Linked DNA regions of Homo sapiens: regions 1, 2 and 3 are each linked to region 4. Evidence: fine-mapped expression QTL. A gene starts in region 4. Each other region holds a variant in brackets. All regions are shown on one strand. Distances are from middle to middle. Region 1 overlaps DEAF1 (DEAF1 transcription factor). Region 2 overlaps PHRF1 (PHD and ring finger domains 1). Region 3 overlaps PHRF1 (PHD and ring finger domains 1). Region 4 holds the start of DRD4 (dopamine receptor D4).

Region 1 (8,132 bases), 33 kb after region 4:
ACATGGGCGGCCACACCGTGGTAGCAGGCTGCAGTCACCCTGGCCAGAGCTGACAAAGTGGCTGGAAAATGAGGGGAGAAACCCTAGAAAGGAGCAAGCACAGAGAGAGGACACTCCCATCCAGCACATAAACGCTCCCCACGTCCTTGTTTGACCCTGAGCTGATGACACAGCATGTGGGGAAGACTCAGCAGAAATGGACGGCTGAAGACCGAGAACACTGAGCAGAGACTGCGGCTGCTGCTCACCACCTGAAAGTCTGGAGTTTGAACCTTCACAAGTTAGAGGCTTAAAAACACCACGGACTTCCCAGGAACATCCAGAAAACCACAGCTTCGCAGATCCAAGACTAAGGATGTGTCAGGCAGAAGAAAAAGCCAGACAGACCTGCCCTAACAGCATCAACACTGATCCTCTTCAGGGTGATCCATAAGAATTCAGCCTGCGAGAACAAAGCCCAACACTCTTCAGGGGAAGACAACAGAATCCAACAAAATTCAGAGTCTCTACCATATAAACTCTACCATATAAACAGTATATAAACTAAAATTCCAACACACAATCAGGAAGTACTGGACGTGTGAAGAAGGGATAACAGGATCCATGATGAAGGGAAAAAGTAGCCAAAAGAAGCAGATCCTGAGGCTGGGCACGGTGGCTCACACCTGTAATCCCAGGCGGGCAGATCACGAGGTTAGGAGATTGTGAACATCCTGGCTAACATGGTGAAACCTCCTCTCTACCAAAAATACAGAAAATTAGCCAGGAGTGGTGGCATGCACCTGTAGTCCCAGCTACTCGGGAGGCTGAGGCAGGAGAATCACTTGAACCCGGGAGGCAGAGGTTGCAGTGAGCTGAGATCGTGCCACTGCACTCCAACCCTGGGCGACAGAGCAAGACTCCGTCTCAAAACAAAACAAAACAACAAAGTATTAGCCAGGTGTGGTGGTGCACACTTGTAGTCCCATCTACTTGGAAGGCTGAGGCAAGAGATCGCTTGAACCTGGGAGGTAGAGCTTGCAGTGAGCTGAGATCGTGTCACTGCACTCTAGCCTGGAGAGCAAGACTCTGTCTCCAAAAAAAAAAAAAAAAAAAAAAAAGAAAAAAAGAAATAGTTATAGCCAGGAGCAGTGGTTCATGCTGGTAATCCCAGTACTTTAGGAGGCCAAGGAAGGTGGGTTGCTTGAGTCCAGGAGTTCAAGACCAGCCTGAGAAACATAGTGAAACCCCATCTATACAAAACAAACAAAAAAATAGCTGGGCATGGTGGTACACATGTGTAGTCCCAGCTACTCAGAAGGCTGAGGTAAGAGGATCGCTTGAGCCAAGGAGTTTGCGGCCAGCCTGGGCATCATGGTGAAACCCCAGCTAAAAATTGGCCGGGAGTAGTGGCCAGTGCCGGTAGTCCTAGCTACTCTGGAGGCTAAGGGAAGATCACCTGAGCCCAGGAACTCAAGGCTGCATTGAGATGTGACCACAACACTGCTTCTTAGCCTCGGTGACAGACAGTGACCCTGTCTCAAAAAAGAAAGAAAAAAGAAGGAAGGAAGGGAGGGATGGAGGGAGGGAGGGAGGAAGGAAGGAAGGAAGGAGAGAGGGAGGGAGGGAGGGAAGGAGGGAAGGAGGAAAAGAGGAAAGGAAGGAAGGAAGGAAGGAAGGCAGGTAGGCAGGCTGGCCAGAAGATGATGGAAAGACATCTTTAAACTGGTGAATGATAAAAAGTGACAACCCAGGTAGGTCATGCCTATAATCCCAGCACTTTGGGAGGCCGAGGCAGGTGAATCACCTGAGGTCGGTCAGGTGTTCAAGACCGGTCTGGCCAACATGGCAAAACCCTGTCTCTAATAAAAAAATACAAAAAATTAGCTGGGCATGGTGGTGTGTGCCTGTAATTCCAGCTACTCAGGAGGCTGAGGCAGGAGAATCGCTTGAACCAGGGAGTCGGAGGTTGCAGCGAACCGAGATGGCATCACTGCACTCCAGCCTGGTGACAGAGTGAGACTTTGTCTCAAAAAATAATAAATAAATAAATAGGCCGGCGTGTTAGCTCATGCCTGTAATCCCAGCACTTTGGGAGGCCCAGGCGGGTGGATCACTTGAGCCCAGGAGTTCAACACCAGCCTGAGCAACATGGCGAAACCCCGTCTCTACCAAAAATACAAAAATTAGCTGGGTGTGGTGGCGCACGCCGATAGTCCCAGCTACTCAGGAGGCTGAGGCAGGAGAATTGCTTAAACCTGGGAAATGGAGGTTGCAGTGAGCGGAGATTGTGCCACTGCACTCCAGCCTGGAAAACAAGAGCGAGACTCTGTCTCAAAAAAATATATATATGTAAGTGACAACCCAGAATTCCATGTCACTCAAAAACGTCCCTCAAAAATAAAGGTGAAAGAGGGACATTACAGACAAAAACAGAGAATTCATGGCCAACAGACCTATATGAAAAGAAAAGCTGAAAGTACATCTTTAGGTTGAAGAAAAACAAGATTTGGACCACACTATGAACCACCTTGACCTAATGACATTACAGAAAACGAAAACCAATGACTGAATAAAACTCTTTTCAAGTGTATATGCAATATTCACCACGAAAAGTATATACATGATCATAAAACACATCTTTTTGTTTTTTTGAGACAGGGTCTCATTCTGTTGCCCAGGCTGGAGCACAGTGGCGTGATCACAGCTCGCTGCAACCTCTACCCCTGGGCTCCAGTGATCCGGCTAATGAAGGAAACATTTTGGCCGGGCACAGTGGTTCATGCCTGTAATCCCAGCACTTTGGGAAGCTGAGGTGGGTGGATGGCTTGAGCTCAGGAGTTTGAGATCAGCCTGGCAACACAGTGAGACCCTCTCTCTATGAAAAATACAAAAATTAGCCAAGCATGGTGGCACATGCCCATAGTCCCAGCTACTTGGGGGGCTGAGGCAAGAGGATTGCTTGAGCCTGGGAACTTGAGGCTGCAGTGAGCCGAGGTCACACCTCTGTACTCCAGCCTGGGTGACAAAGTGAAACCCTTTAAAAAAAAAGTTTTTTGTTTTTTTTTAGACAGAGTCTCGCTCTGTAGCCCAGGCTGGACTGCAGTGGTGCAATCTCGGCTCACTGCAAGCTCTGCCTCCTGGATTCATGCCATTCTCCTGCCTCAGCCTCCTGAGCAGCTGGGACTATAGGTGCCTGCCACCATGCCTGGCTAATGTTTTGTATTTTTAGTAGAGACGGGGTTTTACTGTGTTAGCCAGGATGGTCTCGACCTCCTGACCTTGTGATCTGCCCGCCTCGGCCTCCCAAACTGCTGGGATTACAGGCGTAAGCCACTGCACCCGACCCTTTTTTTTTTTTTTTTTTTTGTACAGACAGGGTCTCACAATGTCCAGGCTTGTCTCAAACTCCTGGCCTCAAGACCTTGGCCTCCCAAAGTGCTGGGATTACAGGTGTGAGTCACCATGCCTGGCCGAAATAAATCGTAATCAATTTAAAAGAACTGAAATCAGAGTATATTTTCTAAGCATATTGGAGTTGAATTAGAAATCAGTTGTGGTAGGAAATCTAGAAAATCAACTGGGTGCAGTACCTCACACCTGTCATCTCAGCACTTTGGGAGGCCGAGGTGGGCAGATCACCTGAGGTCAGGAGCTCAAGACCAGCCTGACCTAAATGGTGAAACCCTGTCTCTACTGAAAATACAAAATTAGCTGGGCGTGGTGGCGCATGCCTGTAATCTCAGCTACTTGAGAGGCTGAAGCAGGAGACTCTCTTGAACCTGGGAGGTGGAGGTTATGGCGAGCCGAGATTGTGCCATTGGATTCCAGCCTGGGCAACAAGAGCGAAACTTGTCTCAAAAAAAAAAGAGGCCAGGTGCGGTGGCTCATGCCTGTAATCCCAGCACTTTGGGAGGCTGAGGCAGGAGGATCACCTGAGGTCAGGAGTTCAAGACCAGCCTGACAAACATGGTGAAACCTCGTCTCTACTTAAAACACAAAAATTAGCTGGGCATGGTGGCATGTGCCTGTAATCCCAGCTATTCGGGAGGCTGAGGCAGGAGAATCACTTAAACCTGGGAGGCGAAGGCTACAGTGAGCCGAGATTGCATCAGTGTACTCCAGCCTGGGTGACAGTGTGAGACTGTCTCAAAAAAAAAAAAAAAAAAAAAAAAAGAAACCCCATCTTTACAAAAAATACAAAAATTAGCCAGGCATGGTGGCGCAAGGCTGCAGTGAACCAAGATCATGCCACTGCACTCCAGCCTGAGTGACAGAGTGAGATGCTGCCTCAAAAGAGAAAA[GA/G]AAAAAAAAAAAATGAGAGCAGTGACTGTCCATGGGGCAGGGGACCGATGGAAGGGGACATGAGTGGTGCTTCTGCAGGGATTGAAATGGTCTCATGACCAGGTTCATGCATTCATCAAAACTCACTACATTTTATGGTGGAGATTGAGGCACTTTGCTGTACATACAGTTTACCTCAATTACCAAAAAAGACCAAAAGGACACACAGTAAGTGTTCACGGTCATTATCTTTGGGTGCAGGGTTATAGATTTTTTTGCCTTTAAACTTTCTTTTCCTCTATAAATTTCAGCATTAAGTAGCTGTTTGTTTGGAAGTATACTTTTTTTTTTTTTTTTTTAAAGTATTTTTTTGGCCAGGTGCGGTGGCTCACACCTGTAATCCCAACACTTTGGGAGGCCAAGGCAAGTAGATCACTTGAGGCCTGGAGTTTAAGACCAGCCTCGCCAACATGGCGAAACCTCTTCTCTCCTAAAATACCAAAAAATAGCTGGGCGTGGTTGCACATACCTGTAATCCCAGCTATCTGGGAAGCTGAGGCACAAGAATCGCTTGAACCTGGGAGATGGAGGCTGCAGTGAGCCGAGATCACACCACTGCACTCTAGCCTGGGTGACACAGCAAGACCATCTCAAAATATATATATATCTTTTTCTTTATTTTTTTCCTTTTTAATTTCTTTTTTCTTTTTGTTTTTGTTTTTTTTTTTTTTTTTTGAGACGAGGTCTCACTCTGTTGCCCAGGCTGGAGTACAGTGGTGTGATCACGGCTCACTGCAACATCAACCTCCTAGGCTCAAGCAATCCTCACGTTTCAGCCTCTTGACTGGCATGTCACCACACCTGGCTAATGTTTTTTTTTTTTTTTGAGACAGAGTCTCACTTTGTCACCCAGGCTGGAGTGCAGTGGCGCGATCTCGGCTCACTGCAATCTCCACCTCCCGGGTTCACGCCATTCTCCTGCCTCAGCCTCCCAAGGAGCTGGGACTACAGGCGCCCGCCACCACGCCCGGCTAATTTTTTGTATTTTTAGTAGAGATGGGGTTTCACCATGTTAGCCAGGATGGTCTCGATCTCCTGACCTCGTGATCCGCCCGCCTCGGCCTCCCAAAGTGCTGGGATTACAGGCGTGAGCCACCGCGCCTGGACTTTTTGTTTTTTGAGACAGAGTCTTGCTCTGTCGCCAGACTGGAGTGCAGTGGCCCGATCTCAGCTCACTGCAACCTCTGCCTCCTGGGTTCAAGTGAGTCTCCTGCCTCAGCCTCCTAAGTAGCTGAGACTACAGGTGCCCACCACCACACCCAGCTAATTTTTATATTTTTTTGTAGAGACGGGGTTTCACCATGTTGTCCAAGCTGGTCTCAAACTCCTGGGCTCAAAAGATCCTCCCACCTCAGCCTCTCAAAGCACTGAGATTACAAGTGTGATCCACTGTGCCCAGTGAAAAAGTATTTTAAAATTATCTTTGTCTTCAGGAGTAGAAACACTTTTCTTCCTTGAAAGAAAATTAATGCTGGGTCCAGTGGCTCACGCCTGTAATCTCAGCACTTTGGGAGGCTGAGGCAGGAGGATCTCTTGAGCCCAGGAGTTTGAGACCACCTTGGGCAACACGGCAAGACCCAGTCTCTACAAAAAATAAAAAATAAAAAAATAAATTAGGCAAGCGTGGTGGCATGCACCCGTATTTCCAGGAGTTTGAGCCTACAATGAGCCATGAGCCTAGGCAACAGAGTGAGACCTTACCTCTTAAAAAAAAAAAAAAAAAAAAAAAGAAACACAAAAAACACTAATCACATATTGATCAGTCATTTAAAAAATTAAGAATCTAAAAAGCTCTTCTGCTCGCCTGTCACCATTAAGACATGCCTTTCCTCCCGCTTTGCCATCTGCCATGATGGTGAGACCTCCCCAGCCATGTGGAGCTGCAGTGTCACTGTCATTACCTCAATAGTCATTGAGTGGTGTTGCTGGTGTTTGGAGCTGTGGCATACCTAATGACCATGCATTCCTCCTATGGAAGGCTTCTGGACAATCACCACTACAGGTCCTGGGGAAACTACACAAACCCCTAACATAGAATACGGCCTGGGATGAGAATCACTGTTTGTTATGTGCTTGTCTGGTAGAATCCGTAACAAACCCCTAACATCGAATACGACCTGGGTTGAGAATCACTGTTCATTATGTGCTTGTCTAGTAGAATCCGTAACAAACCCCTAACATCGAATACGACCTGGGTTGAGAATCACCGTTCATTATGTGCTTGTCTAGTAGAATCCGTAACAAACCCCTAACATTGAATACGGCCTGGGTTGAGAATCACCGTTCATTATGTGCTTGTCTAGTAGAATCCGTAACAAACCCCTAACATTGAATACGGCCTGGGATGATAATCACTGTTCGTTATGTGCTTGTCTAGTAGAATCTATAACAAGTACCTGATGTGCACTGAATGACAGAAAAATTTAAAAATTAAAAAATAAATAGGCCGGGCAAGGTGGCTCATGCCTGTAATCCCAGCACTTTGGGAGACTGAGGTGGGTGAATCACCTGAGGTCAGGGGTTCAAGACCAGCCTGGCTAACATAGTGAAACCCCGTCTCTACTAAAAATACAAAAAATCAGCCAGGTGTGGTAGCACATGCCTGTAATCCCAGCTATTCCGGAGGCTGAGGCAGGAGAATCACTTGAACCCGGGAGGAGGAAGCTGCAGTGAGCTGAGATTGTGCCATTGCACTCCAGCCTGAGCGACACAGCAAGACTCCGTCTCAAAAAAAAAAATTTTTTTTAAATAGATAAATAAATAAATACGTATAATCCCAGCACTTTAAGACGCTCAGGCGGGTAGATCACTTGAGGTCAGGAGTTTAAGACCAGCCTGGCCAACATGGTGAAACCCTGTCTGTACTAAAAATACAAAAATTAGCCAGGCATGGCAGCAGGCGCCTGTAGTCCCAGCTACTTGGGAGGCTGAGGCAGGATAATTGCTTGATCCCAGGAAGTGGAGGTTGCAGTTAGCCAAGATCGTGCCACTGCACTCCAGCCTGGGTGATGGAGCGAGACTCCGTCTCAAAAAATAAAATAAAGTAAAATAAAGCAGCAGCTGAAAAAAAAATAATGATAATAAAATAAATACATAAATAAAAAGTTCTTCTATAAAAAGTAGAAGCTGGGCATGGTGGCTCACATCTGCAATCCCAGTACTTTAAGAGGCTGAGGCGGGTGGATCACCTGAGCTCAGGAGTGTGAGATCAGCCTGGGCAACATGGTAAAACCCCGTCTCTACCAAAAATACAGAAAATTAGCCAGGTGTGGTGGTGGGTGCCTGTAGTCCCAGCTACTTGGGAGGCTGAGGCACAAGAATCGCTGGAGCCCGGGAGGCAAAGGTTGCAGTGAGCCGAGATTGTGCCACTGCATTCTAGCCTGGGCGACAGAGTGACAGCCTGTTCCACAAATAAAAATAAAAATAGAAAGTAGAAAAGAAATGGGGGAAAACGTTTCTTACATAGATTTGGTGGGAAAAATATGAATTTGACTTTTGTTTACAAACCAAAGTCCACGTTACCGTACCCGAAAAAGCAGCTACAACAAAATCCATCCCTGTCCTTTCCTGTGGCCTTCAGAGCTCCCCATCTGTGCTGAGCAGACAGGCGCCCTCCTCTCTCACCTTCTCGTCCCCGTGCCCTGTGACACACGGTACCTGTCTGCTGGGTTTGGGCTATGAGAAGTAGCTGAGAAACCTCCACCCTCTCTCCAGTTTACTCTGGCTCTAGTAATTTCTATCTACCCTATTCATGTCACCCACCTGAACCTTTATATTACCTCAAAGTCTTCAATCTAAGTAAAGGGTTC
Region 2 (5,300 bases), 42 kb before region 4:
CAAAAAAGAAAACAGCCGGACAGGAGGCTGTGGGGCTGGTCAGCCAGAGGGTGGGACGTGTCCTGGTCCCGGCCTTTGTGGGGGAGGGGTGGCTATGCCTGCGTCCATCATTCTGGCTGCCTTGGTCCCTCACCTTTCACCCTGCTCCTCCTTCACCCTCTGGTGCATGTCCAGTTATGCTGCACCTGCTGCTCTCCCTGGCACAGCTGAGAGCGCCTGCTCTGGCCCTGCGTGGCCCTGGCTTCCCGGGAGCCTGTGACACTTGTCTCCTCATCCCTGCTTTGTGTCGTTGGCTGTAAGCAGATGCCCCCTTCCCCGTTAGCCTCCTGCGAGGGGCTTTCCCTGTTGATTTGAATAATTTTTCTGCTGTGAAATTATGGAGAGAGGATTCTGGAAATCTTTCCCTTGTTGAAAGAACCAGTGAGGCTGCTCGATCTGGGGCCTTCTCTTGGGTGGGAAGTAGCTGGGTCAGGGTTTGGACTACGGAACAGCCGGAGCCAGGAGGCCTTGACGTGCCGCGGCTGGAGCCGCACCGAGGATGGGCTCCTGGTGAAGGCCTTTGCTCTGTGGCGGGTGGTCCCGGTCGTCCCAGCTTTGACTCGTCCTTGAGCACAGCCGCTTGTGCCCCCACCTGTCACCTCGTTGTTAGCCACATACCCAGGCCTCTGCTCCACTCACGCTGTTGTTGGTGCAGGAATCGCTGGCTGTCCTTTTGCAGACACTGCAGGGGCCTCCTTGGGGGTCCTGCAGGCGGCCACCACGTTTGTCTCATCGTCAGTTCGCCCTCCTCCTCATGGCCTGTGGGAGTACAGGGGCCTTGCAGTGCGCTCCGCCGGCCCTTCCAGGTCCCCAGCCCCTGCTTGGTCCTGCCCTCTGCTCCCAGCAGCCGGGAGATAGCCACGCCTCTGCTCACATTCGCAGACACCTCGCCGTCCCTCCTTTCTCACGAGTCTGAGCCTAAATCCATGTTTTGTGAGTTTCCTGAGTGCTCTGCCCTGACGGTCCTCACCTCCTCAGGGTTCCTGGGAGCGTCTGCTGCCAGTTGCCCCGGCAGGCACTGAGTTGGTTGCTGTGAGTCTGAAGGGCAGGGCTGCTGCCTTGACTATCCCAGCAGCCTGGTCATTGCAGCCCTGGGCACAGTGCTTATTGGCTGTTGATTACTGACTTACACCGTGAATATATGCAGAATGCTTAAAAAGAAAAAAAAAGGTGGAGGGGTGGCTCAGCACTCCATGCCCATGTGTAGGACTGGTCCTCTTTTGTCCTCTTTACCTGTGGCTGCGGCCACTCTGGGCATGTGAAGGAAGGGCCTGGGCTGGCCTGGAATCGCTGGACACGGCCTGAGAGACCATGGCATGATAGACCTGGTCCTGGTCGCCACAGGCACCGTCTTGGGCAAGGCCCTCATCGCAGGCCAGGGCCGTGAGCCTTCTAGTGGCTCGAGGGCAGCTGGTAGGCCAGTTTTCACGCACAAAGCCTGGTTTTCCTGTTAGCTTTTATTTTACTCATTTACTTATTTTTTTCAAGGCAGAGTCTTGGTCCGTCATCCAGGCTGGAGTGCAGTGGCGCCATCTTGGCTCACTGCAACCTCTGCAGCGAGTCACTGCAACCTCTGCAGCGAGTCACTGCAACCTCGGTTCAAGGTTCAAGTGACTGTCCTGCCTCAGCCTCCTCAGTAGCTGGGATTACAGGCACATGCCACCACACCTGGCTAATTTTTGTATTTTATGGAGAAACGGGGTTTCACCATGTTGGCCAGACTGGTGTGGAACTCCTGGGCTCAATTGATCCGCCCACCTCGGCCTCCCAAAGTGCTGAGATTAAAGGCGTGAGCCACTATGCCCAACCTAGTTGTAGTACCTTCTAACAAGGCTCTTGGGAATGTTTACAGCTTAATTAAAATTTTTTATTATAAATTACATTTACAAACTTGATATATTGATTTTCTTTCTACCTACACTACTTGAATTACTTGGCAGATAAAACAACGCAAGTACATAAAAACCCTGGTGGATCTAAAACATTAAAACTGATCAATATAACGATTCTCATACTTCTAAACATTTCCATACTGTTACAATTTGCAGTCTGCCAAATTTTCAGTTAAGTCTGACTTAAAAATCACACGTCTAAAATTACTCAGTTCCTCATGTCAAAATGGAATCACAGTAGGCCGAGGCGGGTGGATCACCTGAGCTCAGGAGTTCGAGACCAGCCTGGCCAACATGGCGAAACCCCGTCTCTACTAAAAATA[A/T]AAAAATTGGCCGGGCGTGGTGGTTCACACCTGTAACCCCCGATCCTTGGGAGGCTGAGGCACGCGAATACCTTGAACCTGGGAGGCGGAGGTTGCAGTGAGCCGAGATTGCGCCACTGCACTCCAGAGAGACTAAAAACAAAAAACAAAAAAACACTATCTGTAGATACACTGACATTACATGAAATAAGATACAGTTTCTGATTTTTTTCTTTTTTAAGTTACAATCTAATTTAAAAGTGTGTGTTCACCAGGGAGGCAGTGCAGGGGCTCACTGAGGCCTGTTAGGTGTGGCCCTCCCCTCCCTGGGCAGGTCAGATCTGAGCACCTTCAGCTGCAGGGCCACCAAGCTCCCTGTGCAGGTGGAGCCATGGGTGCCTGCACCGTAGCTGGGCAGGTCTCGGCAGCCCTCCTTGTCCCCGTGCTCGTATTTAAACTTGCAGCCAATCTCCTCTTCTCGGGGATGAGTGTGGGGGACACAGGCCTGGCCTGGCTGTGGATGGGCGCCTGCCAGGCGCAGAGGGGCCTTCTGCTCGGGCCTCAGGTGAGCCGCAGCCTCCTCCAAGGCTGCTGGAGCTCAGTGGTGGGAAAGTGGGTTGGACGTTTTCAGACTTTGGAATTCTTTGAAAGAAGGTACTGCTCATCCTTGCCTTTGTCCCCAGAGAACTTGTATAAGAACAGATGTTAGGGGACCTAGTTAGGCTCTTGGAGTGCCCCCACCCGCCGCCCCCCTCTGCTGGCCTGGCAGGGCGTGTCGTGTGCCCGGGGCAGTCGGCTTCTCTTCCTGCATGCCTGTCTCCTGTCTTTCTTGTATGGCCCTAGCAAGGGCCACACAGCAGACACCTTCTCATAGGTGCAGGACTCTTGGGAGAATGGGTTTACTCTTGTTTAACTCGTATCTTAGATCCTAGAACAGTTCAGCCCGTGGTAAGTGGTAGTTAAGTTCAGTTGAATTCAGGCTCAATTTTCAGGGAAATCATCAGCTTGACTCCCTTCCCTTGATTGTTTTTGCCTTACTCAGGGCTGTCTGGGGTCTTTGGGATGAAGTTTCAAGGATCTTTGCATAGACTCCCGAGCCTCGGCTGCTTGGAGGGGCACATATACCTCATACCAGTGGCAGCACTTCCCAAACTACCTTCCCAGAAGGCTCGATAGAAACAATTAAAACATAGTTTCCTTTCAGCAAAGAAACCTTCGCCTTCTTCAGTGGCTTGGTGTGAGGTGCAATGTTTGAAAACCCGGGAGTGAGGGTGGGGGAGACAAGCTCTCTGGGAAGGGGGCCCCACAGGCAGCACCTACCGCAGGAGCTCAGTGTGAGCCACTGTCGGCCTGTGGGTGTGTGTCGTGTGTCGCAGCCAGCTCAGTTGCTGTCAGGATACCACAGGCTGGGCAGCGTAAACCGCAGGTCTTCCTTTTCTTGGTTTTGGAAACTAGACATCTGAGATACCAGCAGGCCTGGTTCCTGGGGAGGCCCCCTTCCTGACTTACAGACGGCCGCCTCCCCGCTGTGACCTCACCTGGCCTTCCCTCATCTAAGGACACCAATCCTATAACCTTAAAGGTTCCATGTCTATCTGCTGTCACATTGGGGGTTAGGGCTTCTTATGAATTTTGGAGGGATGTGGGTCAGCCCATAACAGAATGCATCGCAGACTTGGGTGCCATCGGAGGCCTGCTTTGTGGTCCCCTCACTTGAGGAGGTTTGGGAAAGCTGTGAGCAGCACCCGGATGCTTTGGCCCTGCTCTCTCCTGTAGGTACCACATGGAATGCTTGGACCCCCCTCTCCAGGAGGTGCCGGTGGACGAGTGGTTCTGCCCGGAATGTGCTGCGCCTGGTGTTGTCCTTGCCGCTGGTAAGGACACTGCTCCCGTCCCAAGGCGCACATGGGCCTTCTCACTGTCCACTCTGCGGTCCCCGGGGTTAGGTTTGGCTGCTGTGTGGGGAGGACATCTAGGGCTGTCTCATGGGGGTTAGGGTTGGCTGCGGTGTCGGGAGGACATCTAGGGCTGTCTCGGGCTCGTCTTCTCGGGGATGTGTGTGGGGTCCATTGGCTGGGGGGTTCCGGTCCTCAGTGTTAGGAGCACCAGGCTCCATGAGCAGCCCTGGGTCCTGTGCACAGGTCAGCCCGAGCCAGGGCTGCTACTTGGCCGGCAGCCACAGGGGGAGCCGTTGGGGGAGGCGTGTGGCCTGTGAGTGTGGCACATCAGCCCTGGTGGTTCTTCCCAGATGCGGGTCCCGTGAGTGAGGAGGAGGTCTCCCTGCTCTTGGCTGATGTGGTGCCCACCACCAGCAGGCTTCGGCCTCGAGCAGGTAGGACCCGGGCGATAGCCAGGACACGGCAGAGTGAGAGAGTGAGAGCAACCGTGAACCGGAACCGGATCTCCACGGCCAGGAGGGTCCAGGTGGGTGGCCCAGCCCTGACGCCAGTCGTAGAACCCCAGCTGCCCAGAGTGATCTCGGCAGTCTGGGTGGGTGGGAGGGGCGTCGTCGGCACTGTGGGGTCCGCCCGGCCCCGGTGGCTCATGTTGTTCGGCCTGCTGAGGGGAGCAGATGAGTGCACCCCAGGGTGACCCCAGCGGCCCAAGGTGGGGCTGCCTCTGAGCACCTGGAGCCAGGTATTGAGGGGCAGGTGAAGCCTGGCCCTGGCGGGGTGGGGGCTCTAGGAAACCCCCCTTGTTCCCCAGGCCCCATGCCAGCACCGCTCCCTCTAGGCACCTGTGAGCACCTTCCTCTTGCACTGGACCTGGTGCTCGGTTTCAGGTGCTCCCTGCAGCCTCCGTCCTGACAGCAGCCTTTCCCTGGGCATTGGACAAGCAGGAGGGTCTGGGCTGTGGGCATGTGGTGTGTGCCCTTGGCAAGCCTAACGCTGAATTTGGAGTGGACTGAGAAGGCTGGGTGGGGAGGGGGCTGTCCCTGTCCAGTGCCCTGCCCAGTACCTGCGCCACCCCCGCCACAGTGACTGGTGCCCTCTCGTGTGCCCCTGGGATGCTGTCTGTCCCCCACCCGCCTTGCCCCCGTGGGAGTGCTTGGCAGCCTCTGGCAGGG
Region 3 (8,132 bases), 54 kb before region 4:
CTCAGTGCATGCTGTGGGAGAGGGGTCACCCTCCTGGATGGGCCGTGGCCCTCGTGTGTCTCTCAGAGCCAGTGTCTCTAGGATTCAGGTGCGGGACGAGCAGGGCGTCTCTGCGGAGTTGCTGGGTCCACCAAGCACCAGGGGTGCAGACTGCCTTGAGCGGGGATCATGACCAGGTGTTTTCACCTTAGGGTGGCAGGTAGAAGAAAGGTTAATTACTAATTTGGCAAAACTACTTCTACAATCGCTGTTTCCAGGCAGTAGTAAGATTTGGCAGTTGACAGTTGGATGGAGTTGACATTCTTCACTGTTTTATAAGGCATCATCTTAGAATCTAGGGTTTTGCACTGTCTTGTCAGATGGGAAGTGAGGCCGTCCTGGTTTCTGAGCCCCGTTAGGGTTTGTTGTCCAGGGGTTTCCAGACAGCAGTGGCGCTGACAGCCACTTTCCCCCGTTGCTGTGGTACATGTGCAGCCCACAGTGGTGGTGGGAGCTGAGCTCCAATGCAAGGAGGCCCTGAACTCGAGGGCAGCTCTGGCCCCCTACTTCCTGGCCTCTTGTGCGATGCGCTTTCCTCTGATCATGGATGGAGGTTGGACTTGGTGGGAAACAGAGTGCTGCAGGGCCGGCTTCACTGCCTCGCTGGATTCCTGACTCACTCTCCTAGGACAGGCCTTTCCTCCGAGAGTCGCCTGGGAAACAAGGTCAATAGCACTGATGAGAAATGAACCACGTGCACGTATCTCCTTTCTTATCTGGGACCAAAGTTTGAGGCCCTGGTGTGGAAGGAGGAGCGTGTCCAACTAGATTTCCCAAGGCTTTGTACGGGATCCTGTGTGGTTTCACAGTGACCTTGCAGAGTGGGAAGGGCAGGGGTCCCGGCTGACGGGTCAGGGCCTTGAGCAAGTGGTCTTGGGAGCCGAGGGGTGGGCCTGGCCTCTGTGCCTTCTGCCTCCTCAGCTCTGGGTACCACTGGGGACTCAGCAGCACCCTGGTGGATGGGGTTGGGGTGCGGTCAGAGGAGCCTCCAGGCATCCCAACAGTGGCCAGCCTTGGCAGGGAGAGCACCCTACGTGTCACTGAGGCCCCTCTTGTGCCCAGCTGATAAAGCCCGGCTCTGCCTCAGCTCAGGATGAGGCCGTTTTGTTCGTATATGGTGTTGCGATTCCTCAGGAGCATTGCAGTTTTTTGAGATGGAGTTTTGCTCTTATTGCGCAGGCTGGAGTGCAGTGGCGCGATCTCGGCTCACTGCAACCTCCGCCTCTCAGGTGCAAGCGATTCTCCTGCCTCAGCTTCCCGAGTAGCTGGGATTACAGGCGCCCGCCACCACGCCTGGCTAATTTTTGTATTTTTAGTAGAGACGGGGTTTCATCATGCTGGCCAGGCTGGTCTCAAACTCCCGACCTCAGGTGATCCGCCTGCCTCGGCCTCTCAAAGTGCTGGGGTTACAGGCGTGAGCAGCTATGCCTGGCCTAATTTTATATTTTTAGTAGAGATGGGGTTTCTCCATGTTGGTCAGGCTGGTCTCAAACTCCCGACCTCAGGTGATCCGCCCGCCTCAGCCTCCCAAAGTGCTGGGATTACAGGCGTGACCAATTTTTTTTTTTTTTTTAGTTAAAAACAAATTTTTATTTTCTGGCCGGGTACAGTGGCCAGCTAGGATCTGGCTTTATGGGTAGCTCTGTAAATGTGAATCATGTGTAAGGCTTACTGGTGAGGGTTGTTCTGTGGGTGATATCTTAGGGCTCACCCTTCACGTGCTGTGGCGGTGGATGTGACACTGGGACACTGGGGTGTGGCCTGTGGGGATACTGCTGAGAGTTGTTCTGTGGGTGATATCTCAGGGCTCACTCTTCACGTGCTGTGGCGGTGGATGTGACACGGGGATGTGGCCTGTGGGGAGAGGTCATAACTCTTCAGAGGGTTCTTTGCAGCCTGGGACAGTTTGGAAGTTGCTTGGCTCTTCTTTCTTTCAGAGCTGAGCTCAATGTGCAGCAATGGATGACGACAGCCTGGATGAGCTTGTGGCCCGGAGCCCAGGGCCGGATGGACACCCACAGGTCGGCCCTGCGGACCCGGCAGGTGACTTTGGTGAGCTGCCTAGCGCCGGGTAGGGGCGTCCCCAGGAGGAGCAGGGTGCCTGGTGTTTCCCTTTGGAGGTCGTCTGTGTGTGTCACTTGTCAACTTTCAGTCTAAAAAAATTATGCTTTGATTTTAAATTGCGGAAGTAGTGTATTGTTTTGTTTTATTTTTAATGCAAACAACACAAATGTTGAACGAAAGGATGTTCCCTTTCCTTGCTTGTGCCCCCACCTTGCCGGCCCTGGGGAAGCCGTTAGCCGTTTGGCAGGTGCTCCTGACGCCTCTATGCCTGTGCAAAGCAACCTGCTCTCTGCTGCATGGTCTTGACGCCGCCCTGCGGCCTGTGTCTCACCCTGGTGTCTAGAAGAAAGCAGCGTGGGCAGCAGTGGGGACTCTGGGGACGACAGTGACAGCGAGCATGGAGATGGCACAGACGGAGAAGACGAGGGGGCGTCTGAGGAGGAAGACCTGGAAGACAGATCTGGTGAGACAGCTGGTGTTCACGCCGGCTCCTGTGTTTCCTCTTGTCGTGATGGGGACAGCCTTTTATAACACATCCTCCGTGAGAGTGCTGTCACCACAGCTGGCCATGTCCCTGCGGTCACCTACGGTGAGGCCTTATATTCAGCTGTGGTGACGGCTCACTTTATTTGTAGTACTTCATTTCTTTTTTTTTTTTTTTTTTGAGACAGGGTGTCGCTCTGTTGCCCAGGCTGGAGTACAGTGGTGCCATCTCAGCTCACTGCAACTTCTGCCTCCCGGGTTCAAGTGATTCTCCTGGCTCAGCCTCGTGAGTAGCTGGGATTACAGGCACGCACCATGACACTTGGCTAATTACTTTTTGTATCTTTAGTAGAGACGGGGTTTCACCATCTGGTCTGGAACTCTTCCTGACCTCAAGTGAGCCGCTGTGCCTGGCCTGTAGTCCTCCTTTTTTTTCTTTTTTGAGACGGAGTCTCGCTCTGTCGCCCAGGCTGAGTGCAGTGGCGCGATCTCGGCTCACTGCAAGCTCTGCCTCCTGGGTTCACACCATTCTCCTGCCTCAGCCTCCCGAGTAGCTGGGACTACAGGCGCCCGCCACCAAGCCTGGCTAATTTTTTGTATTTTTAGTAGAGATGGGGTTTCACCGCGTTAGCCAGGATGGTCTCGATCTCCTGACCTCGTGATCCGCCCACCTCAGCCTCCCAAAGTGCTGGGATTACAGGCGTGAGCCACCGCGCCCGGCCTTTTTTCAAGACGAGCCTGGCCAGCATAGTGAAACCCCCTCTCTACTACAAATACAAAAAATTAGCCGGGTGTGGTGGTAGACGCCTGTAATCCCAGCTACTCGGAAGGCTGAGGCAGGAGAATGGTGTGAACCTAGGAGGTGGAGGTTGCAGTGAGCCGAGATTGTGCCATTGTACTCCAGCCTGAGCGACAGAGCGAGACTCCATCTCAAAGGAAGAAAAAGAAATTCTGGCTGTCTGGGCGCGGTGGCTCACGCCTGTAATCCCAGCACTTTGGGAGGCCGAGGCGGGCGGATCAGGAGGTCAGGAGATCGAGACCATTGTGGCTAACA[T/C]GGTGAAACCCCGTCTCTACTAAAAATAGAAAAATTAGCCAGTCGTGTTGGCACGCGCCTGTAATCCCAGCTACTTGGGAGGCTGAGGCAGGAGAATTGCTGGAACCCGGGAGTCGGAGGTTGCAGTGAGCCAAGATCGCCACTGCACTCCAGCCTGGGCAACAGAGCGAGACTCTGTCTCAAAAAAAACAAACAAAAAAACCCCACCAAAATTAGCCGGGCGTGGTGGTGCGTGCCTGTAATCCCCACTACTCAGGAGGCTGAGGTTGGAGGATCGCTTGAGCCCAAGAGGTCGAGGCTACAGCGAGCTGAGATCACGCCACCACACTCCAGCCTGGGCCACAGAGCGAGACTCTGTCTCAAAAAGATAAAAAATTCTCAGCTCACTTACAATTGGCTGATGGTTGTGCCCTTGAACTTCTTTTGAGAGAACAATGTTCCAAAGGGCAGGTCTGCGCTGGGTGTGGTGGCCCAGGCCCATGGTCTCAGCTACGCAGGAGGCTGAGGTGGGAGGACCCTTGAGCCCAGGAAGTTGAGGCTGCATTCCAGCCTGGGTGTTGGAGCGAGACGTTATCTCAAACAAAACAAAGGGGAGACAAGTCCGTGGGGTGCGCTGGTGGTACCTCCTTCCTTGTCCCCTGTTGCCATCACCCTCGGTGGTGCACAGCCTGTGAGGCCACCAAGGAGGTGGCCCTGCCCCGGCCCTGCTGTGGTTGCTTCCTCAGAGGGAGGCCGAGCTCAGGCTCAGAACTTTGCCTTTCCACTACTTTCCTTCTGACATCACCCTTGGGCTGGAAAATCCATGGTCCTCAAGTGGCTACTGTGATCTGTGTGTAGCAGTCTTTCTGCATAGCCCTGTGGTTATCAGGGTTAGAATGTTCCAGAAAGGTAACACTCCTGTTTGAGACTGTTGGTAAGGGAATGGCACTCATGGCCTGAGCCAATGTGTGTTGGCCGTGTCCTTCCAGAGTTCGATGTTTAGCTCTGCACGTGCTCTGCGGGTCTGCTTGGGTCTGCAGGTCCTGAGGGGCTTCCCTGCTCCCTCCCAGCATCAGGTTAGGGCTCTGGTTCATCTGTAGTAGGTCTCCGCACCAGTTCTGGCGTTGCCAGGGCTGAAAGTGTGGGCCGTCAGGGCCGCCAGGTGACTCTGTCCTTGAGATCCTGAGGGCACATTGGATGCCAGAGACTCTGGGTTGGGGGCTGGAGTGAAGGTGGCGGGAGCCTCAGCAGGGCCCCCACCGTGTCTGCGCTCACCTTCTAGCAGCAAACAGTGCGCCAAGCAGCAGCTGGGGGACAGGGTCATAGACACTGAGAGCTGTGGGCGTCCAGGGGAGGGGCAGGCTCCATGGACCTGGGGTGGGGAGAGGCTTCTGGAGAATCCAAGCTGCCACCTGAGGGGCAGGAGGAGGTGGCTGGGCAGAGGCGGCAGGCCAGGACGGGGGAGCTGTGAAGAGACAGGTTTATGGAGACCTGGAGCCCCTGAGGGCTGAGCGCCCCGAAGGAAGGGGATGGGAAGGCACTGGAGAGGTGTTGGTATAGCCACTGTGAACACTTCTTTTTATTTCTCCAGGACCTTTTTTTTTTTTTTTTTTTTTTTTTGAGACCGAGTTTCACTCTTGTTGCCCAGGCTGGAGTGTAGTGGCGCAATCTCGGCTCACTGCAGCCTCTGCCTCCCGGGTTCAAGCGATTCTCCTGCCTCAGCCTCTCGAGTAGCTCGGATTACAGGCGCGCACCACCATGCCTGGGTAATTTTTGTATTGTTATTCGAGATGGGGTTTCACCATGTTGGCCAGGCTGGTCTTGAACTCCTGACCTCAGGTGATCCACCCGCCTTGGCCTCCCAAAGTGCTGGGATGACAGGCATGAGCCACCGCGCCTGGCCAGGACTGTTTTTTAAACATGAAGAAGTAGCCAGTGGGTCCCTAACTGGTGGGAAACATGTTGAGGAGGGAGTTATTCCACGAGCAACACCCACGTTGCTGGGGCTTGGGAGCTTTCGTTCTCATTGCTTTTCCCACCCTGGTGTTTCCTGCTGGAAATCACTTGTTACACTGCCCTTTCCAGCTTGAGGTAGTAGCCCTTTCCAGCTTGAGGTAGTAGCCCTTTCCAGCTTGAGGTAGTAGCCCTTTCCAGCTTGAGGTAGTAGCCCTTTCCAGCTTGAGGTAGTAGCCCTTTCCAGCTTGAGGTAGTAGCCCTTTCCAGCTTGAGGTAGTAGCCCTTTCCAGCTTGAGGTAGTAGCCCTTTCCAGCTTGAGGTAGTAGCCCTTTCCAGCTTGAGGTAGTAGCCCTTTCCAGCTTGAGGTAGTAGCCCTTTCCAGCTTGAGGTAGTAGCCCTTTCCAGCTTGAGGTAGTAGCTCTTTCCAGCTTGAGGTAGTAGCCCTTTCCAGCTTGAGGTAGTAGCCCTTTCCAGCTTGAGGTAGTAGCCCTTTCCAGCTTGAGGTAGTAGCCCTTTCCAGCTTGAGGTAGTAGCCCTTTCCAGCTTGAGGTAGTAGCCCTTTCCAGCTTGAGGTAGTAGCTCTTCAACTCTTTTTTTTTTTTTTTTTTGAGGTCGAGTCTCGCTCTGTTGCCCAGGCTGGAGTGCAGCAGCACGATCTCAGTTCACTGCAAGCTCTGCGTCCCAGGTTCACGCCATTCTCCTGCCTCAGCCTCCCAAGTAGCTGGGACTATAGGCACCTGCCACCGCGTCCAGCTAATTTTTTGTATATTTATTTATTTATTTATTTTTGAGACGGAGTCTTGCTCTGTTGCCCAGGCTGGAGTGCAATCGTGCAGTCTAGGCTCACTGCAACCTCTGCTTCCCAGGTTCAAGCGATTCTCCTGTCTCAGCCTCCCAAGTAGCTGGGATTACAGGCACACGCCACCACACCCGGCTATTTTTGTATTTTTTGTAGAGACGGGGTTTCACCATGTTGGCCAGGCTGGTCTCAAACCCCTGACCTCAGGTGATCCACCTGCCTCAGCCTCCCAAAGTACTAGGATTACAGGCTTGAGCCACCACGCCTGGCAATTTTTTGTACTTTTAGTAGAGACGGGGTTTCACTGTTAGCCAGGATGGTCTCTATCTCCTGACCTCGTGATCTGCCCACCTCAGCCTCCCAAAGATGCCGGGATTACAGGCGTGAGCCACCACGCCCGGCCAGTAGCTCTTCAACTCTTAACATGAAAGATGGGAACTTAAAACTCTTCTGCTGCCTCCCTCGCAGCTCTCACTTCTCCCAGCCTCTTTAACAGTGTAAATATTTCTGTTCTGGGTGTGTCTTTCCCTTTGCCAGATAACAGAGGGTCCTGGCAGTGATGCCCCAGTGCTGGCAGGGTCCTGCCCACATGCGTGGAACCGGGAGGGTTTGGAGGGTTTCGGGCCTAGGAGGAACCTGCCACCCACACCGAGTCTGCTCCTCTTCCCATGTGAACTTGTGTTCTGTTTACTTTAGCGTTGTTTCATTGGAGTTTGGTACAAAGAAGATAGCAGTGCACGTATGGGCTCTGCCGTGTTGAACTCGGAGCATCTCCCTGCTCCCTGCTGGTCAAGGTGTAGCCTCAGAACCACTCCGAATTGGCCAGAACGGTTGTGGTTAGTGGCCCAGTTAGGAGTCTGTGCTCTGCCTCCCACAGGGAGGAGGAACAGGCAACCTCAGAAGGAAGTCCCTTCCGCGGGCAGAGGGTTTGTGGTCCTCATGCTTTGAGAAGGGGGCGTTGGAAATGGGGGCTGCTGTCAGGGGGCTGCTGCACTGAGGGGCTCGCTTGGAGGCTCTGAAATGAACCTGATGGTCTCTGGGACCTGTGCTAGGCCCCAGGGCTGCCCTGCCTCTCGAGGTCTGCCTCAGCCCCAGGCTCAGCTTAGAGGAGCTGGTCTGGCACTCAGGACGCTCAGCTTCCCGCCCCTCGGTGCAGGGCACCCGAGGCTTCAGGTTAGGTGCAGGGCAGGGCTCCCAGGGTTGTGGATGTGCTGAGCGTGGACGTGGAGGTAAGTGGCAGGAGCCTGCGGGGAGGTGGGCTGTGCATTGCCGACCTGGTGTCCTGAGCGCAGCCTGGGCCCGCTTGCCTCCAGTGCCGCGGTTCACGCTGCCCATCCTGCTTGCACCAGCTGGCATGTTTCCTCTCCAGGTTCCGAGGATTCTGAAGACGACGGGGAGACATTGCTGGAGGTAGCGGGTACTCAGGGGAAACTGGAAGCCGCTGGCTCTTTCAATTCTGATGATGATGCAGAGAGCTGCCCAATCTGTCTCAACGCATTCAGAGACCAGGCCGTGGGGACGCCGGAGAACTGTGCCCATTACTTCTGCCTGGACTGCATTGTCGAATGGTCCAAGGTGAGTTCACCTCTGGTTGGGTGCTTCCTCCCTTCAGGATGGCCTCCCTGTTTATAGGTGACCCAGCCTGTGTTCAGCCTCTTGTGAGGTTCTAGTTGTCTGCTCTGCGGCTGACCCTGGGGCCACAGGATTGAGTCTGGCTTGGTCTTTGCTTTGTGAGCACCATGGCTCTTGGGGGTGTGG
Region 4 (8,132 bases):
TGGTGTATGACATTGAATTTCGTCTGTTCGTTCACCCTTGCATTCCTGGGATAAATCCCACTGGGTTATGGTACATAATCCTTTTAAAAATGCTGTTTTTCGGCCAGGCACTGGCTCACGCCTGTAACCCCAGCACTTTGGGAGGCCAAAGTGGGCGGATCATGAGGTCAGGAGTTTGAGACCAGTCTGGCCAACAGAGTGAAACCCTGTCTCTACTAAAAATACCAAAATTAGCTGGGCATGGTGGCACGTGCCTGTAGTCCCAGCTGTTCAGGAGGCTGAGGCAGGAGAATAGCGTGAACCCGGGAGGCAGAGGTTGTGGTGAGCCGAGATCACACCACTGCACTCCAGCCTGGGTGACAGAGTGAGACTCCATCTCAAAAAAAAAAAAAAAATGCTGCTTTTCTGGCAGGCAGCACTTTAAAAGGGACTGTGTTTGCTCATATTTTTTCGAGAACTTTTGCATCTATATTCATAAAGGATACTCATTTGGAATTTTCTTTTTGTGATATCATTACTGTTGAGTTTTGAGAATTATTAATCTTTTTTGTATACAAGCCATTTGCTGGATATATGATTGCTAATTTTTAAAAAAAATTTGTTTCTTTTTTAATTTTAATTTATTATTTATTTATTTATTTATTTATTTATTTATTTATTTTGAGACGGAGTCTCGCTCTGTCGCCCACGCTGGAGTGCAGTGGTGCGATCTTGGCTCACTGCAAGCTCTGCCTCCCGGGTTCACGCCATTCCCTTGCCTCAGCCTCCCGAGTAGCTGGGACTACAGGTGCCCGCCACCACGCCTGGCTAATTTTTTGTATTTTTAGTAGAGACAGGGTTTCACTGTGTTAGCCAGGATGGTCTCGATTTCCTGACTTCGTGATCTGCCTGCCTCGGCCTCCCAAAGTGCTGGGATTACAGGCATGAGCCACCTCGCCCAGCCTATTTATTTATTTTTTGACACAGAGTCTTGCTCTGTTTCCCAGGCCAGAGTGCAATGACGTGATCTCCGCTCACCGCAACCTCTGCCTCCTGGGTTCAAGTGATTCTCCTTCCTCAGCCTGCCAAGCAGCTGGGATTACAGGTGCACACCACCACGCCCGGCTTTTTTTTTTTGAGACGGAGTCTTGCTCTGTCACCCAGGCTGGAGCGCAGTGGCACAATCTTGGCTCACTGCAATCTCCGCCTCCCGGGTTCATGCCATTCTCCTGCCTCAGCCTCCTCAGTAGCTGGGATTACAGGTGCCCGCCACCACGCCCGGCTGATTTTTTTGTATTTTTTAGTAGAGACAGGGTTTCACCGTGTTAGCCAGGATGGTCTCGATCTCCTGACCCTGTGATCTGCCTGCCTCGGCCTCCCAAAGTGCTGGGATTACAGGCGTGAGTCACCACGCCTGGCCAATTATTTGTATTTTTAGTAGAGATGGGGTTTCACTATGTTGGCCAGGCTGGTCTTGAACTCCTGACCTGGTGATCCACCTGCCTCGGCCTCCCAACGTGCTGGGATTACAGGTGTGAGCCACTGCGCCTGGCGTAGACAACCCAATTTTTAACAAAAGCAAAGATTTTTAACAGGCACATTCCAGAAGAGGGCATGCTGACAGTTAACAGGCACATGGGAAAAGTGGTCAAACATGAGTAGCCATCAGGAAAATCAACGACGTCCTACTACACTAAAATGGAAGAAACATTGCCAGACGTGGCCATTTGCAAATGTCGTTTCCTGGTCTGTGTCTTTTGATTCTCCTGACAGCATATTTGAGTTAATTTTTTAATGTGTAAGGTATGAGTGGAGGTCCTCATTAAAAATTGTTTAGGCTGGCTGTATGGCTCATGCCTGTAATCACAGCACTTTGAGAGGCTGAAGTGGGAGGATCATTTGAGCCCAGGAGTTTGAGACCGGCTGGGCTAACATGGCGAGACCCCGTCTCTACAAAAAATAAGAAAATTAGCTGGGTGTGGCACCACGCATCTGTAGTCTCAGTTGTACAGGAGGCTGAGGCCAGAGGATCACTTGAGCCCAGGAGATTGAGGCTGCAGTGAGCCATGATTGCAGTAAGATGTGATCACATCCAGTTACATTTGATTTTCAGATAAACAACAGAAGTTTAGTGGAGGCTGGGGGCAGTGGCTCACAGCTGTAATCCCAGCACTTTAGGAAGCTGAGGCAGGTGGATCACCTGAGGTCAGGAGTTCGAGACCAGCCTGGCCAATATGATGAAACCGTGTCTCTACTAAAAATACAAAAAAATTAGCCGGGCGTGGTGGCGGGCGCCTATAATCCCAGCTACTCAGAAGGCTGAGGCAGGAGAATCGCTTGAACCCGGGAGACGGAGGTTGCAGTGAGCCAAGATTGTGCTGCTGCACTCCAGCCTGGGTGATAAGAGTGAAACTCCATCTCAAAAAAAAAAAAAAAAAAAAAACAAATTGGGGTTGTCTGTCTTTTCTCATTGTTTCCATTGTTTCTGGATCTGTGTGTCAGAGATGTGTGCTGCACACATCCTTTCTCCGCCTAGCTTGGTTTTCACTCTTGGTGGTCGCAGACATCTTGGGGGCTACTTGAAGGAACTCTAAGCCGACCAGAGGCTGGGCTGGACTCGCCGTTTGGCGCCCAGCCGGAGACCCCAGGGCCACCCTCCCCGGTTCCATCCTGGGAGAGAAGAAACTTCCACTGTCCCAGTCTCTCCTGTGGTGACTTCTTTTGCTCAAGGGTTCACAAGGGCAGCAGACTGATCTGCACAAGAGGGACTGAGCCTGGCTGCGGCCGCACCTGATGCCTGTGCACACCTGTCCCTGGTGGTCTCTCCTGTGGTGACTTCTTTTGCTCAAGGGTTCACAAGGGCAGCAGACTGATCTGCACAAGAGGGACTGAGCCTGGCTGCGGCCGCACCTGATGCCTGTGCACACCTGTCCCTGGTGCAGGCCCTTCCCCCGCAGCCCCGTGACCTTGTCCTGTGAGGCTCACGGTGCCTGCTCCTTCTCAGAGTCCTCATTTCTCCCTTTAACGCACGCCCTGTCAGCGCCTCCGTCTAGCCCGTGTCCTCCAGACCTTCGAGGTCAGGGGCCTCAATTCCTGGCACAGCCCCTCCACTCCAGGCCTCCCAGAAACAGACTAGAGCATCAGGATGTGCGCCGCCTGGGGTCCCACAGAGTGGTGCCCCCTTTTAGTGTCTTCTAGGCCCCTTAGTGACAGACTACAGAAAATACCTCTCAGGTCACAGGTCACCCCTCTTTGGTGAAGAGTCCATAGAATTCTCTGCTGCGCTTTGCAAGCACTTTCTCTTCTGCACGTTTGGAACCTACCCCGGCCTGTCGTGTCTTTCTCCTGGCCTCCTCGCGAGCCGAACCTACTGTCCGGTCCCGGGACCCCCTGCCCAGGGTCAGAGGGGCGCCTACCTAGCTCACGGTCTTGGGCCGGAGGGAATGGAGGAGGGAGCGGGGTCGACCGCTCAGCTGTCCGCCCAGTTTCGGAGGCGGCCACGCGAGGATCAACTGTGCAACGGGTGGGGCCGCGGCTGACCGTGGTGGTCGCGGGGGCTGAGGGCCAGAGGCTGCGGGGGGGGGGCGGCGGGATGAGCTAGGCGTCGGCGGTTGAGTCGGGCGCGGAGTCGGGGGCAGGGGGAGCGGGCGTGGAGGGTGCGCACGAGGTCGAGGCGAGTCCGCGGGGGAGGCGGGCAGAGCCTGAGCTCAGGTCTTTCTGCGTCTGGCGGAACGGGCCTGGGAGGGAGGTTTTGCCAGATACCAGGTGGACTAGGGTGAGCGCCCGAGGGCCGGGACGCACGCACGGGCCGGGTAGGATGGCGCTGGCGTCGATGCCCGCGCGCTTCAGGGCCTGGTCTGGCCGCCCCTCCATCCTTGTCGGTTTCTCGGGTCGCGGACCCCGCGCGGCGCCGGGCGATGCTGGCCTGCCCGTGGCCACCACCTCGCTTCATTCCCGTCTCTTTGGGCCGCCGCATTCGTCCACGTGCCCGTCTCTCCCTGCGCAAAATTCCAAGATGAGCAAATACTGGGCTCACGGTGGAGCGCCGCGGGGGCCCCCCTGAGCCGGGGCGGGTCGGGGGCGGGACCAGGGTCCGGCCGGGGCGTGCCCGAGGGGAGGGACTCCCCGGCTTGCGACCCGGCGTTGTCCGCGGTGCTCAGCGCCCGCCCGGGCGCGCCATGGGGAACCGCAGCACCGCGGACGCGGACGGGCTGCTGGCTGGGCGCGGGCCGGCCGCGGGGGCATCTGCGGGGGCATCTGCGGGGCTGGCTGGGCAGGGCGCGGCGGCGCTGGTGGGGGGCGTGCTGCTCATCGGCGCGGTGCTCGCGGGGAACTCGCTCGTGTGCGTGAGCGTGGCCACCGAGCGCGCCCTGCAGACGCCCACCAACTCCTTCATCGTGAGCCTGGCGGCCGCCGACCTCCTCCTCGCTCTCCTGGTGCTGCCGCTCTTCGTCTACTCCGAGGTGAGCCGCGTCCGGCCGCACGAGCATCCTCACCTGCTCCTCGGTTCCCCGTCCCTGTCCCTACGGAGGACCCGGCGCGACCCGGCCCCTTTCTGGTGCGGAGCTTCCAGCTGGGGCGGCGGCAGGGGCGCTGCGCCTTGTCCCTCGGCGATACACCCACCGCCGCCACCTCGCGACCTTCCACCCGCTGCGCTGTCTGTCCCCCGACCCTCGTTCCTCTTCTCCTTCCCCGTCTGTCTTGGCGTCTGTTATCCAGGAGATGCCCGTCCTTCTATCCAGGGACCCCGGAAACAGGCGACTTTGTCAAGCCCAGTCCCCTCCGTAGCTGGATTTCACCTCCAGGGCAGCCAGCTGGACAGACAGGCAGATGCAGGCTCAGCCCCCTGGCTGCCGTGGGACACACACACACACACACTGCCACAGCCACTGCCCACCACACACACCTAGTGCAGATGCTGGCACACCCCCAGAAGGAGGCTCACAGCTCGCAGGGGAGACCTGGGCTGGACAAAACCCAGGGGAGGGGAGGGTGTGTGGGGACCAGGCCCCTGCTGAGAACCCTGGGGGGAAGCCTGAGGGGGAATTGGGGGATGGAGCCCACACTCCACACCAGGTCTGGCCCTCGAGTGGGTCGGCCTTGGTGCCAGCCCCTCTGCGGCCAGAGAAAAGCAGCTTAGGGCTGAGCTGGAGACGCGGTGTCCCCGACTGTGGGGGAGGGGGACTCGAGGTTTCCCCTTGATGGACACAGTGAATCCAGGCGGCTGGGGCAGAGACCAGCAGCACGGGACACGCGTGACCTGTGCTCCTTTCGAGCCGCAGACGTCACAGTGACGACGTTTAAGCTCCTAATCTCCCCAAATCGGCGGGAAGGATTAGAGGGGCTGCCTGCTCCTTTGCCCTTGGAGAGAGTCACTCCACGTGGAGTCCTACGCTGGGCACTGGGCACGGTCTTCATATTTTTAATTATAATTTATCTTCAAGACAATTATGATGTGGATACTATCATCACCCTTGTCTTACAGATGAAGAAACAGAAATGAATTAACGTGCCCGAGTCTCCCACAGAGAACTTAGCCAACAGAGCAGCCAGCTTCGCTTCTAGGCCCAGCGGGGACCCTGCCTACCCCAGGCTGGGGAGGGGCTCCCTTTGAGCCCGATGATATCAGGCCCGCCCCCAGGGAATTCCCCAGGCCGTTCTCATGTTTGTAACAAAAGGGAGACCAAGGCCAGAAGCCGTGATTCACGCCTGTAATCCCAGGACTTTGGGAGGCAAAGGCAGGAGGATAGTTTGAGACCAGCCTGGGAAACATACCAGGCCTGGTCTCTACAAAAAATTTTAAAATATCAGCCGGGGGTGGTGGCTGCGGCTGTTGTCCCAGCTATTCGGGGGAGCTGAGGCGGCAGAATCGCTTAAACCTGGGAGGCGGAGGTTGCAGTGAGTTGAGATCTCACCACTGCACTCCAGCCTGGGCAACAAGAGCGAAACTCCGTCTCAAAAAACAAAAAGAAAAACAAATCAGCCGGGGGTGGTGGCGCGCGGCTGTAATCCCAGCTACTCTGGAGACTGAGGTGGGAGGATCGCTTGAGCTCAGGAATTCCAGGCTACAGTGAGCCATGATGGAGCCACAGCACTCCAGCCGCGGTGACACAGCGAGACCCTAACTCAAAACAAAGGGAGATCTGCGTGGGGAAGGGGTGTTTCCCTGCCCGGTCCTCTGGCCTCTGGCTCACAGCCGGGCCCCCTTCTCCGTATTCAGCCCTGGAACTACCCATAAGAGTGGGGGCGGGTCACAAGGGCCCGCGGTGGCTGGGAAACCTCAGGGCCTGTGGTGTCGCCGCGCAGGTCCAGGGTGGCGCGTGGCTGCTGAGCCCCCGCCTGTGCGACGCCCTCATGGCCATGGACGTCATGCTGTGCACCGCCTCCATCTTCAACCTGTGCGCCATCAGCGTGGACAGGTGCGCCGCCCTCCCCGCCCGCGCCCCGGCGCCCCCGCGCCCCGCCCGCCGCCCTCACCGCGGCCTGTGCGCTGTCCGGCGCCCCCTCGGCGCTCCCCGCAGGTTCGTGGCCGTGGCCGTGCCGCTGCGCTACAACCGGCAGGGTGGGAGCCGCCGGCAGCTGCTGCTCATCGGCGCCACGTGGCTGCTGTCCGCGGCGGTGGCGGCGCCCGTACTGTGCGGCCTCAACGACGTGCGCGGCCGCGACCCCGCCGTGTGCCGCCTGGAGGACCGCGACTACGTGGTCTACTCGTCCGTGTGCTCCTTCTTCCTACCCTGCCCGCTCATGCTGCTGCTCTACTGGGCCACGTTCCGCGGCCTGCAGCGCTGGGAGGTGGCACGTCGCGCCAAGCTGCACGGCCGCGCGCCCCGCCGACCCAGCGGCCCTGGCCCGCCTTCCCCCACGCCACCCGCGCCCCGCCTCCCCCAGGACCCCTGCGGCCCCGACTGTGCGCCCCCCGCGCCCGGCCTTCCCCGGGGTCCCTGCGGCCCCGACTGTGCGCCCGCCGCGCCCAGCCTCCCCCAGGACCCCTGCGGCCCCGACTGTGCGCCCCCCGCGCCCGGCCTCCCCCCGGACCCCTGCGGCTCCAACTGTGCTCCCCCCGACGCCGTCAGAGCCGCCGCGCTCCCACCCCAGACTCCACCGCAGACCCGCAGGAGGCGGCGTGCCAAGATCACCGGCCGGGAGCGCAAGGCCATGAGGGTCCTGCCGGTGGTGGTCGGTGGGTTCCTGTCCTGAGGGGCGGGGAGGAGAGGAGGGGGGGGGTACGAGGCCGGCTGGGCGGGGGGCGCTAACGCGGCTCTCGGCGCCCCCAGGGGCCTTCCTGCTGTGCTGGACGCCCTTCTTCGTGGTGCACATCACGCAGGCGCTGTGTCCTGCCTGCTCCGTGCCCCCGCGGCTGGTCAGCGCCGTCACCTGGCTGGGCTACGTCAACAGCGCCCTCAACCCCGTCATCTACACTGTCTTCAACGCCGAGTTCCGCAACGTCTTCCGCAAGGCCCTGCGTGCCTGCTGCTGAGCCGGGCACCCCCGGACGCCCCCCGGCCTGATGGCCAGGCCTCAGGGACCAAGGAGATGGGGAGGGCGCTTTTGTACGTTAATTAAACAAATTCCTTCCCAAACTCAGCTGTGAAGGCTCCTGGGGGCTGATGGGGAGTGGGGAAGAGGGGTTTCTGCCTCAGTGGCCCCAGGCCCCCCAGCCAGTTAACCTCTTTCTCCCCGCCAAGGAAGCCCACAGAGCAGACCCCACCAAGCCGGCCGCCTGCTCAGGGTGAGGGGGGAAGGGGCCCCCGAGAGCCACTCAGTTCCGCAGCGCTGGGGCCCAGCTTCCCCTCTCTGCAGGGGAGAGGAAGCAGCACCCAGCAGGGCAAGGTGTCTCCTGGGGAAGCCCAGTTCCGATGGGAAGAAACAAATGGGGAGAGGCGGGGTGGGGGGCTGTCAGCCGCCAGGCCCTGCCCGGGCCAACTCCCACCTCTGAGAACCAGGCACAGGGGGCTCCAGGCTCATGCTGCCCCAGCAGACCCCGGCAGGGGAGCCCAACCTGTCATTTTAGAAGCTGCCTTGAGGCCAGAGCCTAGCTTCCTGCCAGTCCCTGGCCAGAGGATGCCCCAAGCCCCACAGCAAGGGGCCTGTGGTGATGGGTGGGGCCCCACCAAGTGGCTTCCCTGGAGGGAGCTCCGTGCTCAGTCACCCCT

The links. PIP is the estimated chance that this variant, and not a neighbour inherited with it, causes the effect.
Region 1: its variant is the best candidate, but not a certain one, in a credible set for the expression of DRD4 in whole blood (INTERVAL, PIP 0.50).
Region 2: its variant is the best candidate, but not a certain one, in a credible set for the expression of DRD4 in prefrontal cortex (GTEx, PIP 0.79).
Region 3: its variant is the best candidate, but not a certain one, in a credible set for the expression of DRD4 in subcutaneous fat (GTEx, PIP 0.57).

What each region holds. Positions count from the first base shown.
Region 1 is chr11:665,798-673,929 of GRCh38, forward strand. The region is part of intron 10 of DEAF1 (DEAF1 transcription factor); the gene reads right to left. Among named protein-coding and RNA genes, the nearest start is that of DEAF1, 25 kb to the right of the region's middle. RefSeq lists an enhancer at 8,120-8,132. The variant GA/G (reference allele first, on the strand shown) is at 4,284.
Region 2 is chr11:592,914-598,213 of GRCh38, forward strand. PHRF1 (PHD and ring finger domains 1) reads left to right here. Exons shown (of 18, transcript NM_001286581.2): 7 at 4,010-4,107; 8 at 4,482-4,657. Among named protein-coding and RNA genes, the nearest start is that of PHRF1, 19 kb to the left of the region's middle. RefSeq lists an enhancer at 2,588-3,087. The variant A/T (reference allele first, on the strand shown) is at 2,255.
Region 3 is chr11:579,516-587,647 of GRCh38, forward strand. PHRF1 (PHD and ring finger domains 1) reads left to right here. Exons shown (of 18, transcript NM_001286581.2): 2 at 1,977-2,091; 3 at 2,447-2,566; 4 at 7,744-7,949. The coding sequence starts at 1,998. Among named protein-coding and RNA genes, the nearest start is that of PHRF1, 7.1 kb to the left of the region's middle. RefSeq lists enhancers at 4,248-4,749, 4,750-5,249. The variant T/C (reference allele first, on the strand shown) is at 3,641.
Region 4 is chr11:633,148-641,279 of GRCh38, forward strand. It overlaps DRD4 (dopamine receptor D4), which reads left to right and starts at 4,122. Exons shown (of 4, transcript NM_000797.4): 1 at 4,122-4,442; 2 at 6,286-6,398; 3 at 6,501-7,159; 4 at 7,254-7,559. The coding sequence starts at 4,158. The coding sequence ends at 7,456. RefSeq lists enhancers at 2,404-2,939, 2,940-3,473, 4,009-4,542, 4,543-5,077, 5,078-5,611 and 4 more.